2 separate regions of the Homo sapiens genome follow, and region 1 is linked to region 2. Evidence: fine-mapped expression QTL. Tissue or cell type: whole blood. Region 2 holds a variant in brackets; the other region holds the start of a gene. All regions are shown on one strand. Distances are between the middles of the regions.

Evidence for each region. PIP is the estimated chance that this variant, and not a neighbour inherited with it, causes the effect.
Region 1: TAC3 starts here. The variant in region 2 is the best candidate, but not a certain one, in a credible set for the expression of TAC3 in whole blood (TOPMed, PIP 0.50).

Annotation. Positions count from the first base shown.
Region 1 is chr12:57,013,480-57,020,360 of GRCh38, reverse strand. TAC3 (tachykinin precursor 3) reads left to right here and starts at 3,832. Exons shown (of 7, transcript NM_013251.4): 1 at 3,832-3,974; 2 at 4,559-4,677; 3 at 6,690-6,783. The coding sequence starts at 4,564.
Region 2 is chr12:57,074,941-57,081,821 of GRCh38, reverse strand. NEMP1 (nuclear envelope integral membrane protein 1) reads left to right here and starts at 3,031. Exons shown (of 9, transcript NM_001130963.2): 1 at 3,031-3,203. The coding sequence starts at 3,077. RefSeq lists enhancers at 3,057-3,106, 3,227-3,476. The variant G/A (reference allele first, on the strand shown) is at 3,061.

The DNA of each region.
Region 1 (6,881 bases), 61 kb after region 2:
TAGCTTGAATATTAGCTTTTAATTAAGCTGACTTCTAACCATGGAGCTCTTTAACAAAAATTCTTTTAAATTTGTCTCTCTCCTCCTTTAAAACTTTTTGTAGAGATGGGGTTTCGCCCTGTTACCCAGGCTGGTCTCAAGTCCGGGCAACTTCTGGGCTAAAGTGATCTGCCTGTCTCGGCCTCCCAAGTGATAGGATTACAGGTGTGAGCCACTGCGACTCACCTTAAATCTCTTGTTACCAGATTTTAGTTGGGACAAATGCTGATATTTTAAAAGTCACATAAATATTAAGCCGAAAAGGACTGATTTCTGATTAGGAAGGAAACCCTAAGCCACGGTGGGAATTTTAATTATTAAACTGTAAAATGGAGCAGCCTCCATTGTTAATTTTGTATGGAATCCAAAGTGGCAGTTTGAGTGTAATTGTTTTAGGTCAGGTTTTTGTGCTTTAATTTAATCAAGACAATTGTTAAGGATAGCTGTGACACTATTATGTGTCCTTTTAATTTGATCTATCAATTCTTTAGAACAAGTAATTTTTTTAAATTTAGGAATTTTAGTCTAAAGGATTTATCTTTTGGCCATTGACAATTAGAATTTTTAATGGGGTATTTAATTCCAATAGCAACTTAATCCAAAGTTTTCTTTATGTCAAAGAAAACAGAAGCCCAGGAGGGATGAGACCTTGTAAGACAAAACTCCCCTAGGAGCTTGGAATGTTTGAAAATACATGTGTTGGGCTCCCAATCTTTTCATACTGGCTGTGATGTTACCTGAAAAATCACATCCTTTGGATGGTGGAGACCAAGCGGGAATATCCCCATCTAGTCACGTCATGCTCTCAAGGACATGAGACAAGAGGGAAACCTCTCACCCTGTTTTTATTTCAGGGACTGGCAGCAAAGTTTGTCATAACAGAAGTCAGCATAACCAGAACCACGAAACTGACCAGTTTGCAGGGCCAGTTCAAACAGTGGGTTGCAGGCCTGTTCTACCCTAGGGTACCCCTCCTTATGACAGAACACCAAAAGACAAGACAAAAACGAAGGAAAACGGCAACAACAAAAAAGCTATTTCTGAAAGGAAAATGGCAACAACAACAACAAAAGCTATTTCTGAAGGGAATGGGGTCAAACTATGAATACTTATACCACAAAGTACTAAAAAATATATCAGACTCACTATACCAAGGTTAGTCACACACAAAACCTGTTCTCTCATTAATCTTACATTTGGAAAGGAAAAGGGAAACAATGATTTTTACTGTCCACTCATCCAGAGTCCACAGAGAGAGGAAAACTGGAAAACTGGGAGTCTGGCAGGAAATTCTCACTCCTCTGCTGGCTTGCCAGGTTCCTGTATTTCCTTCTCTGTGGCTTCCAGAAAAGCACAATAGCTTTGGTGGTCTTATTTGTGATGCCAAACTGTGGTCTTGGCCCCCTAAAGTTTCAGTGAAAATCACTGACATGAAGCAGATTAATAGGGAAAAAGGCATACAAATTTATTAAATACGAATGGGAGCCTTTAGAATGAAGCCTTGAAGCTATAGGGGAAATTGTCTATTTTTATGTTTAGGTTTAACAAAGTATGGACAGCTGTGTAGAAATATGACTGGACAGAAAGGGCACGATCTAATGTTAACAGACTGAGTGGGGAAACCCAGCAAGGCCTGTCTGTTGAGATTCCTCCTAGCCTCTCTCATTCCTTCCTTCTGGTGTGGGGCAGGACCCTCTCTGGAATGGAGGTTTTATGACCTAAGTCAAATAACGTAGGTCAGATTTTTTTTTTTTTTTTTTTTTTTTTTTTTGAGCTGGAGTCTCTCTGTCAACAGGCTGGAGTGCAGTGGCGTGACCTTGGCTCACTGAAACCTCCGCCCCCTGGGTTCAAGCCATTCTCCTGCCTTAGCCTCCTGAGTAGCTGGGATTACAGGGGTGTGCCACCACGCCCAGCTAATTTTTGTATTTTTAGTACAGACAGGGTTTCACCTTGTTGGTCAGGCTGGTCTCAAATTCCTGACCTTGTGATCCACCTGCCTCGGCCTCCCAAAGTGCTAGGATTACAGGCGTGAGCCACTGTGCCCGGCCTTTTTTTTTTTTTTTTTTTTTTAGGAAGTTGTATTTTGGGCTTTTTAACTAGCTTGTTTTTTAATTAGATTATTGCCTTTAGGGTGGAGCCCTTTAATAAAAAGGGGGAAGAAAACATAGGTTTTAGGGCCTCATATTTAAATGGGTAAAGCAGGCATAGCTGGAAGGCAGAATACAGAACCCCCCTAATCAAGGATCTCATTTTTATATTGAATCCTAGGCCCCCCAAAAGAGGGAAATGTCATGGGACGAGATGTGTGGCATTTTTATCGAGTGCCCCACTGTAAAGATGCTCCCCCAAGGCTGGCAGGCAGCCCAGTGCCGATTAGCCCACTCTGTGCTTAGTCTTTTTTTTTTTTTTTTTTTTGAGGTGGAGTCTTGCTCTGTTGCCCAGGCTGGAGTGCAATGGCGTGATCTCGGCTCAATGCAATCTCTGTCTCGTGGGTTCAAGCGATTCTCCTGCCTCAGCCTCCCAAGTAGCTGAGATTACAGGCACCAGCCACTATGCTCAGCTAATTTTTTGTATTTTTAGTAGAGATGGGGTTTCAACATGTTGGCCAGGCTGGTCTCGAACTTCTGACCCCAAGTGATCCGCCCGCCTCGGCCTCCCAAAGTGCTGGGATTACAGGCGTGAGCCACCATGCCTGGCGTGCTTAGCCTATTTTTAATGGGAGTTTCATCCTCAATGGTGAGTGCTTTCATTGTCTTTAGGTGCCCCAGACCATGTTTTTAAAAATTTAAATGCACGAAGAAATAAGTAGCCCTGTATAGTAGTAATACTTTGTTGTGAATAACTGTCATAAGTCATCTCTAAAACTGTATTTTTTATCTAGTTATTATATATGACTAGCTATATGTCTAGTTTTTTAAATAATACAAAGTAATTTATTTTTGGCATCCTCAAAAACCAAAGAGATTAGGTAATGTAGTGTAGAAGAGAGCAGAGCTTTAGACCTGAGAAGAATCTGCCCATGACTCGTGAAACTCCACAACGAAAGTAGGAGACCCCAAAAAAGGGGTGAGTGTCATCTTTTCTGAATTTTTTTTTTTTTTTAGATGGAGTCTTGCTCTGCCACCAGGCTGGAGTGCAGTGGTGCAATCTCGGCTCAGCCTCCCGAGTAGCTAGGATTACAGGCACGCGCCACCATGACCAGCTAATTTTTGTATTTTTAGTAGAGACAGCGTTTCACCATGTTGGCCAGGATGGTCTCGATCTCTTGACCTCGTGATCCGCCCGCCTCGGCCTCCCAAAGTGCTGGGATTACAAGCGTGAGCCACTGCACTCGGCCGGTCAGATAATTTTTTTGGCCAGTTTTTACATAGAGTAATTTTAGGTTTTATGGCTGGCTTTGGGGCAAAGGGGTTCTGGTTTTTATAGCTGGTCTTGGGGGAGAATGGAACCGAGTGACAAGAGGACAAGAGAGGGTCAGAGAAAAACTTCTGCTTCTGAGGCGGCTATTGAGGCCTTCATTTTGGAGTATTGTCCTCTAAGCCCCAGCAGTGTCAAACTGTACACAAACCATACACAGCAGCCAGCTCGGGTGCTGTTAGGAAATGGTCTCACTGCTGGGTCTGTGGGGTATGTGTGTGTCTGGGTGTGTGGCTACTGTCTGCATCCTCCTCCCCCCTACAGCCTCCCCGCCTCCCCTCCAGCCACCCTGGGATTGGTGACTCTCAGCCCCTCCCCTCAGCTCCCCTAGACCCTCCCAGAGCCTTTATCAGGGAGCTGGGACTGAGTGACTGCAGCCTTCCTAGATCCCCTCCACTCGGTTTCTCTCTTTGCAGGAGCACCGGCAGCACCAGTGTGTGAGGGGAGCAGGCAGCGGTCCTAGCCAGTTCCTTGATCCTGCCAGACCACCCAGCCCCCGGCACAGAGCTGCTCCACAGGTAGGCAAGTGGGAGAATGCTGGATGGACCAGAGCTGGCACCAGGGGACAGGAGCCAGCGTCAGGAGGGAATAAAGCAGATGGCAGCCTCTGATAGGGGAGCAGGGGACTGGGAAGGTGAGCACAAAGCACCTGTAGGGCCGAGAGCTGGTTGGTGTTTGGAGCCTGTGGCTACAGACTCATTCTTTCATACCAGAAAGTTTTTGCCTAAGTCTTGGGATTATCTAGTACTGGAAAATAGCATCCAGGATCCCTCCTCCAGCTGACTGAGGAAACAGACCAGTCCATGTCCTACAAATCTATCATCTTTCTTGGGAGCTAGAGTCCTCCTGGCACCACTATAGCATTGCACATCTCCTGGGGAGATATCTGATGGGGTAGCAGGGAAACTAAGCCCAAGGGCTGTACCCCCTTCTCAGAAATACTTTCCACCCTCTCTCCAGACCAGGGCTTGGACAGTGGAGTTGGGGGCTGGGGAAGCAGGGTCAAGCCAAGCTGCTGGTAATGAATGTCTCTTGTGTCTTCACCCATGCTGTATCTTCCTCTTCTCTCCTTTACCTGAGTCCTGTCCCTTTGCTCTCCCAGGCACCATGAGGATCATGCTGCTATTCACAGCCATCCTGGCCTTCAGCCTAGCTCAGAGCTTTGGGGCTGTCTGTAAGGAGCCACAGGAGGAGGTGGTTCCTGGCGGGGGCCGCAGCAAGGTAAGTCTCCCCTGGCAGAGTACTGGGGACATCACGGGAACTTGGGACTCTGCCTGTCTGGACAGCTGTAGTGAGGAAACTGGGGTGGGGGGGTTGTCCGTCAGAGGGCATTTTGCCTCCCTTTGGATTTCTTTGTTTCTCTGGTCCTTTCATGTTCCCACTGTCTCCAGGTGTGTTTGTGTCTCTGTATCTCTGCATGTCTTTGACACCTTGTACATAAAAGGTGCCCTACAAATATGTTGTTTGGTGGGTTGATTGATGGGAGACTTGGTGATTGGATGGTACTGTGAGGGGTGAGCTAGGGTGGTCTAAGGCTCTCTATAGTCTACCTCAGGTCCCTTTGCAAGGGACAGATCTCTTCTATTTCCTGGATGGTATGAAACAGTCAGAATTTCTTTCCCAAATGGTTATTTGTGTGCTATTTTACCTATCAGTTATGTGTATTGTTTTATTTTCAAAATGCAAATAAATTCCCTTATCTTTTGCTCATCCACCCCCAGTAACCTCAGGTGCTTCTAAGATCCCAACCCCTTCCTTCTTCTCTTTTCTCCCTTGCCCGCCTCTATCCTCTGCTTAGTCAGGATAGGAAAACAACAACAGCAAAAAAACCAGATTGAGCCTCGATTTCCACAGTTCCTTTACGAAAAAGAATAGGAATTGTCAGGGTAGGGGTACAGGGGGAGGATAGGGAGGAAGTCTTTTCAAGGTTTTGAAATGACAGCAATTACATCGGTACAAATGCTTTTAAGATGATTGCGGGTGGGACTTATTACAAATTCAATGTGTGAAGTTTAACTGCCTCTTCAGCTCAAATCTGTTCAGCATCTCATTATAGGAGGTGGGCAGAGTATTCAACAATTTGGGAAAAGTGGCTGCCTGAACACCACATGCTGGGCCAAGGGAGTTATCACCAGGGCAGCCTTGCAGGTGGCAGCAGTTGTGCCATATCCAAAAGGCCAGAACCGTTAAAAAAAAAAACACCCAGGGGAGTGCCAAGTATGGGCTGGACACCGTTTGGAGCCACAAAGTTCCAGCCCAGGATAGTTAGAGTATCTGAGTTCTTCTGAGACAAACTTGTTTCAAGACCTTGGCCAATGAGATGTCCCCTCTGCCCCTCTTGGTCAATGAATGAGAGGGATTGCCATCCTACCCCTTCTCCTTGAGAGTCTGTGAGGATGAGGGAAATTGGGGCAGGAAGAGGGTAGTACATAGGTGTGCCTAGGCAACTGGGTTGGTATGTGTGGGGGTGTGTTCTGTGTAAATGCACTTCTGTGTGTGCACAACAGCCGAAGGATGCCTGGGTTCTGGAAAGAGAGGCGCTGCTGAGACTTGAGATTTGAGATGAAAATCTCCAGCCATGATCATTGTTATTGTCTCTCTGCAGCTGCAATTAACTGGCTGTGTGGTGTGTGCCCACCACCCTGCTGTACGCAAGTTGCTAAAAAAAAAAAAAAAATCACAGGGACAATCAAGAGCCCGTGCTGGGCAACAGCTCTAGAACTTGGGATTCAGTTGTGGAGAGAAGAAGACGTGCCTTCTGAGCATGTTGCCTTCCTGGAATTCTAGACCTAGGGCCAAAAGGGAGAGGGAGAGAAAACTAGAGGCGGAAAGCCATGGAGAATAGAGAAAGAGGTGGTGGAAAACAGGGAGAGAAACATCCATGGACATCGTGCAGAGTGGGGGAATCACAGGTGCAGATGTGTGCCTCCAATCTCACCATGCATGTGAATCACCTGGGGGGCTGCTTAAAATGCAGATTCTGTCTCAGGAGGTCTGGGGTAGGAACAAGAGTCTGCATTTCTAACAGGCTCTGTGTAGTGCTGGTGTTGCTGTTGGTCCACAGGTCACTCCTGGAGCACCTACTTCTCGTCCAGTGTGAACCAGAGGAAACTCTGAAAGAAATAGGGTGTCGGATTCAGGATGGGCTCAGGAAGAGGCTGTTTCTTGTGGGAAAAGGATGAGTGGATCCGGGTGGGAGCCTCCTGCCTCACCCCTCTTTGTTTCTTCCCTAGAGGGATCCAGATCTCTACCAGCTGCTCCAGAGACTCTTCAAAAGCCACTCATCTCTGGAGGGATTGCTCAAAGCCCTGAGCCAGGCTAGCACAGGTAGGAGGCGGCCCTAGGGGAGAGGGGAATGAGGGGCAGGATTCTGAAGATAAGAGGCCTGGGAGATCCTTTCAGATGGGAGAGAGATGGGGGATAGC
Region 2 (6,881 bases):
CACTCTCCTGCCTCAGCCTCCTGAGTAGCTGGGACTACAGGTACCTGCCACCACGCCCGACTAATTTTTTTTATTTTTAGTAGAGACGGGGTTTCACCATGTTAGCCAGGATGGTCTCCATCTCCTGACCTCATGATCCGCCCGCCTCAGCCTCCCAAAGTGCTGGGATTACAGGCATGAGCCACCGTGCCCAGCCTCGTTTTTTTAAACTAATGTGTTTTTCTGTTCCAGGATCCCATCTAGACCACCACATTATGTTTAGTTCTCAAAAACATAATGGGCTGGGCATGGTGGCTCATGCCTGTAATCCCAGCACTTCGGGAGGCCGAGGCGGGCAAATCACCTGAGGTCGGGAGTTCAAGACCAGCTTGACCAACATGGAGAAACCCCATCTCTACTAAAAATATGAAATTAGCTGGGCGGGGTGGCACACACCTGTAATCCCAGCTACTTGGGAGGCTGAGGCAGGAGAATCGCTTGAACCTGGGAGGGGGAGGTTGCGGTGAGCCAAGTTTGTGCCATTGCACTCCAGCCTGCTCAACAAGAGTGAAACTCTGTCTCAAAAAACAAAAACAAAAAAGCCCATAATGATGTTTGGATGACTTTGACAGCTTTGAGGAGTACTGGTCAGGTATTTTGTAGGATGCCTCTATTGGAATTTGTCTAATGTTTTTCTCAAGATTAGAGTGGTGTTATGGGTTTTGGGAAGGAAAACCACAGAGTTAAAATGCCATTTTCATCTCATGTTATCAAGGGTACATAGTATCAACATGATTGATGCTGACTTCCCTAGGTCAGCTGAGGGAGTGTGTGTGTGAAATACAGGATGACCATATCAGCACTGTTGGCCTAGACTTTTCCTTCTGAGAATGAAATCTCTTCTCTTGCCCATAGCTCAGCCCCATTTTGACTTTTTTTTTTTTTTTTTGAGACAAGAGAGGCTCGCTCTGTCACCCAGGCTGGAGTGAAGTGGCATGATCTCGGCTCACTGCAACCTCTGCCTCCTGGGCTCAAGCAATTCTTCTGTCTCAGACTCCTAAGTAGCTGGGATTACAGGAACCTGCCACCATGCTGGGCTAATTTTTGTATTTTTATTAGAGATAGGGTTTTGCTGTGTTGGCCAGGCTGGTCTCGAACTTCTGGCCTCAAGTGATCCTCCCACCTCAACCTCCCAAAAGTGCTGGGATTACAGGCATGAGCCACCATGCCCAGCCCATTTTGACTTTTTTTTTTTTTCTCTTTTGAGACAGAGTCTTGCTCTGTCACCCAGTCTGGAGTGCAATGGGGCGATCTTGGCTCACTGCAGCCTCCGCCTCCTGGGTTCAAGGGATTCTCCTGCCTCAGCCTCCTGAGTAGCTGGGCTTACAGCCACCTACCACCATGCCTGGCTAATTTTTGTATTTTTAGTAGAGACGGGGTTTTGCCATGTTGGCCAGGCTGGTCTCGAACTCCTGACCTCAGTTGATCCACCCGCCTCGGACTCCCAAAGTGTTAGGATTACAGACCTGAGCCACCATGCCCGGCCCATTTTGACTTTTAAAAAGGTCCTTGTTTTAGACCAGGTGCAGTAGCTTACTCCTGTAATTTCAGTAATTTGGGAGGCCAAGGTGGGATAATCACTTGAGGCCAGGAGTTTGAGGTCAGCCTGGGCAACATAGCAAGATATTGTCTCTACAAAAAGTAATTAAAAAAAATTAAGCCAGACATAGTGGCTCATGCCTGTAGTCCCAGCTACTTGGGAGATTGAAGTGGGAGGATCATTTGATCCTGGGAGTTCGAGGCTGCAGTGAGCTGTGGTTACACCACTGCATTCCAGAAGGGTTACAGAAGGAGACCTTGTCTCAATAACAACAACAACAACAACAACAACAATGAAACAAACAAATAGCTGGGCATGGTGGTGCATCCCTGTAGCCCAACCTATCTAGGAAGCTGAGGTGGGAAGATGGTTTAAGTCCAGGAATTCAAGGTTACACTGAGCTGTGATGGTGCTGTTGCACTCCAGCTTGGGTGTCAGAGAATGACCCTGTCTCTAAAAACATTAAAAAAAAAAATTCTTGTTTTGAAAGCTTGAACCTTCCCCAGGAGATGCCCCCTTCCTTGAATTCCTCAATTCATTTGGCTCTATCATCTGTAGTTTTCCTACCCATCACCATCAGATCCTCTTAAAAAAAAAGTTTCAATTTCTACTAACAGTTTCTGAACACCTGGATCTCTGCTGGGCCCTGTGTTAAATCATTGAATGGGAAGCAGCTAATCCATATAAATAACTCCGGCTTTGGAGTCAGTAGGATTTAGGTTGGGATCACAGACCAGATGAACTATGAAATCTTGGGCAGGTTCCTGTGGCTGTCTTGGCTTTGGCTTCTTAAATGGAGAGAATTATATTTGTCTCACAAGATGATAAGAGGAATAAATGAATCTTTCTTAATCCTAACATTAATTTTACTTCCAAAAATAAAAATCCTATGAATACATTTTTAAAAGCTAATGTTTATGCTTATAAAATATTGACACACACTTTTTTGTGACTTCTATTTTAAATCCTTTAGGACTTTGGAGAACCACACTTTTGTCAGTCGACTTTAAAAATCGTCCTATCAGGGTCCTACTCATAAAGCGATCTCAATTGTAGGCGTCTCATAACAGAAAGGTCGTGATAAAAAGTAACCGAAAGAAAACGGAAGGAACTTCAGACAGCTTCTATGGAAATACCGAGTTTGGTCAAGGAGGCCTCTCCCATTCCGATTTTCTATTGGTTAAACTTACCATCAATCACACCAGTTGTAAATAAACTGAAGACGGAAGCATGTTGTTAGCGGGGTGGGATCTTCCTGTCGCCACTGCTAGGGTGAGAACCCATTTTCCAATAGGCTGAAAGCTGCTTTTCCCGCCCTCTCTCTTCAGTTGCTAAGGGGCGGGACTCATAGGGCCCTTGGAGGGCTGGGTGCTCGAAGCCCTGCCCATCCCATTGGTTGATAGGGGCGGGTTTCGTAGAGGATAGGCTGCTGTCGTTGCCCGTTCGGAGTTAGTTGCTGGGGTAAGGCACGTGAGGAGGAG[G/A]TGGCTTGAGGCAACCATGGCGGGAGGAATGAAAGTGGCGGTCTCGCCGGCAGTTGGTCCCGGGCCCTGGGGCTCGGGAGTCGGGGGCGGTGGGACAGTGCGGCTACTCTTGATCCTCTCCGGCTGCTTGGTCTACGGCACAGGTACCGCCCGGGCAGCAGCTGCCAAGGGGGCAGGTGCCGAGGGGGTTATTTTTGGAAAAGGGATTGTCCCGAGGGCGCGGGCCGTTACTCTGCAGAAGGGCGGTGGCTCTACCGAGGGCCGCCGGCGTAGTGTGGTGGAAGAAACTTGGCAGGCTAGTGGGCGTCGGGACTGAGGGTCTGGGCCCTGAAGCGGGCTGGGGCAGCTTCCAGAGTGGGGAGGAGCCTGAAGCCTTTTGGCGGAGACAGGAAGGGAGGCCTAGACTGGTTGAGAAGCAGTCCTGGGGGCTGTGTCTCGTTGCAGAAGCCTTGAGTTTCTTGGTTAAAAGCGAGAAAACCTGGGGACCATTCTGGGCAGGCAGAGCAGCCGCGGGAAAGGGACCATCTCATTCATTCGGCAAATCAGCAAACACCATCTGAGCGTATGCTCTGTCAGGACGCAGGGCACGGGTGGCAGAACGGATGTAGTTGACAGAAATGCAGTGATCTCTACTATCTTCTGCTCTTGTAAAACCTTGATTCCTTACCGCCCCCGGCCCGCGAGATGGAGTCTAGCTCTGTCACTCAGGCTGGAGTGCAGTGGTGCGATCTCGCTCACTGCAACCTCCGCCTCCTGGGTTCAAGCAATTCTCCTGCTTCAGCCTCCGGAGTAGCTGGGATTACAGGCACCCGCCACCGCGCCCGGCTAATTTTTGTATTTTTAGTAGAAATGGGGTTTCACTATGTTGGCCAGGGTGGTCTCGAACTCCTGACCTCGTGATCCATCCGCCTTGGCCCTCCCAAAGTGCTGGGATTACAGGTGTGAGCCACCGTGACCGGCCAAATAATGCATGTTTATTTTAGATGATTTGGCAAGGTACAATTAAGTATAAAGAAGCAGGCAGAAACCACACTGTTAATCCATTCAGAAGCAATCTATTTTAGCACACTTTCTTCTGATCTTTTTCCACATATTTTTAATTTTTTATGAATTGATAATTTGTATCCAGTTAGTACTCTAGTTCTCTTCCCTGGAGGCTGCCAGTCGTTACCAGAGATAGTTTTCTCGTTTGATTTTGTAGTACAATAATTTTCCCAAGTAATTTAAAATTCTTTTTTTGTTTTTTTGTTTGTTTGTTTGTTTGAGATGGAGTTTTGCTCTTGTTGCCCAGGCTGGAGTGCAGTGGTGCAATCTCAGCTCACTGCAACCTCCGCCTCCTGGGTTTAAATGATTCTCCTGCCTCAGCCTCCTGAGTAGCTGGGATTACACTTGCCCGCCACCACGCCCGGCTAATTTTTTTTTTTTTTTTTTAAACAGAGTCTCCCTCTTTCGCGCAGGCTGGAGTGCAGTGGCCAGATCTCGGCTCACTGCAAGCTCCGCCTCCCAGGTTCACGCCATTCTCCTGCCTCAGCCTCCCGAGTAGCTGGGACTACAGGCGCCCACCACCACGCCCGGCTAATTTTTTGTATTTTTAGTAGAGAGGGGGTTTCACCGTGTTAGCCAGGATGGTCTTGATCTCCTGACCTCGTGATCCGCCCGCCTCGGCCTCCCAAAGTGCTGGGATTACAGGCATGAGCCTCCACACCCGGCCTTAAAATTCTTTGTAAATGTTGTCTTACTTGTATTACATTCCAATGTATGTGCAGATGTTCATTTAATTTTTTTTCTCCACCCCCCGCCCGCCCCGCCCCGCAGAATGTAGTCTTGCTGTCTGGCCCAGGCTGGAGTGCAGTGGTGCAATCTCGGTTCCTGTTTCAAGCCATTCTCCCATCTCAGCCTCCCAAGTAGCTGGGACTACAGGCATGTGCCACCACACTCGGCTAATTTTTTTTTTTTTGAGACAGAGTTTCGCCCTCGTTGCCTAGGCTGGAGTGCAATGGCACTATCTAGGCTCACTGCAACCTCAGCCTCCAGAGTTCAAGCACTTCTCCCTCTGCCTCCCGAGTAGCTGGGATTATAGGCGCATGCCACCATGCCTGGCTAACTTTTTGTATTTTTTGTACAGACGGGGTTTCACCAGGCTGGCCAGGCTGGTCTCAAACTCCTGACCTCGTGATCTGCCCACCTCAGCCTCCCAAAGTGCTGGGATTACAGGCGTGAGCCACCACGCCCAGCCACACTCAGCTAATTTTGTATTTTTAGTAGAGATGGGGTTTCACCATGTTGGCTAGGTTGGTCTCGAACTCCTGACCTCAGGTGTTCCGCCCGCCTCAGCCTACCAAAGTACTGGGATTACAGGCGTGAGCCACCATGCCTGGCCTTCATTTATTATTTTTTAGTGACGTGGTTTTGCTGTGACACCCAGGCTAGAGTGCAGTGCACAATCATAGCTCACTGTAACTTCCCACCTCGGTCTCCCCAAGTAGCTGGGACTACAGGCACGTGCCATCTGCCTGGTAAAAATCATTATTAATGTTGTGGATTAAACATTTGGTTGGATATTGGTGGTTTGTACTGTTGGTTGGATATTTGTGGTATTTCTAGTTTTTCATTGTTGTAAGTTTGTGAACATCTTTGTGTATACATTTTTATTTATTTATTTATTTATTTTTTTGAGATGGAGTCTTGCTCTGTTGCCCAGGCTGGAGTGCAGTGGTGCCATCTCGGCCACCTAGGTTCAAGCGATTCTCCTACCTCACCCTCCCGAGTAGCTGGGATTACAGGTGTGTGCCACCATGCCCGGGTAATTTTTTTGTATTTTTAGTAGAGTGGGATTTCGCCATGTTGGCCAGGCTGGTCTCAAACTCCTGACCTCAAGTGATCTGCCCGCCTCAGCCTCCCAAAGTGCTGGGATTACAGGTGTGTGCCACCATGCCCGGGTAATTTTTTTGTATTTTTAGTAGAGTGGGATTTCGCCATGTTGGCCAGGCTGGTCTCAAACTCCTGACCTCAAATGATCTGCCCGCCTCAGCCTCCCAAAGTGCTGGGATTACAGGTGTGAGCCACCGTGCCTGGCCTTATTTTTTTTTCTTTTTTTTTTTGTAGAGATGGGGTTTCATCATGTTGGCCAGGCTGGTCTCAAACTCCTGAGGTCAGGCAATCCCCTCACCTTGGCTTCCCAAAGTCCTGGGACTACAGGCGTGAGCCACCACGCCTGGGCCCAACTATTTATTTATTTATTTATTTATTTATTTATTTATTGATATTGAGATGGAGTCTTGCTCTGTCGCCCAGGCCGGAGTGCAGTGGTGTGATCTTGGCTCCCAACTATTTATTTATTTATTTATTTATTTATTTATTTATTTATTTATATTGAAATGGAGTCTTGCTCTGTCGCCCAGGCTGGAGTGCAGTGGTGTGATCTTGGCTCACTGCAAGCTCCACTTCCCGGGTTCATGCCATTCTCCTGCCTCAGCCTCCCAAGTAGCTGGGACTACAGGCGCCCGCCACCGTACCCAGCTAATTTTTTTTGTGCTTTTAGTAGAGATGGGGTTTCACCTTGTTAGCCAGGATGGTTTCAATCTGCTGACCTGGTGATCCACCTGCCTCGGCCTCCCAAAGTGGTGGGATTACAGGTGTGAGCCACGGCGCCCAGCCCCTTATTTATTTTTTTGAGACGTAGTCTTGCTCTGTCACCCAGGCTGGAGTGCAGAGGCGCGATCTCGGCTCACTGCAGTCTCCCCTCCCAGGTTCAAGCGATTCTTCTGCCTCAGCCTCCCAAGAAGCTGCGATTACAGGTGCCCGCCACCATGCCCAGCTGA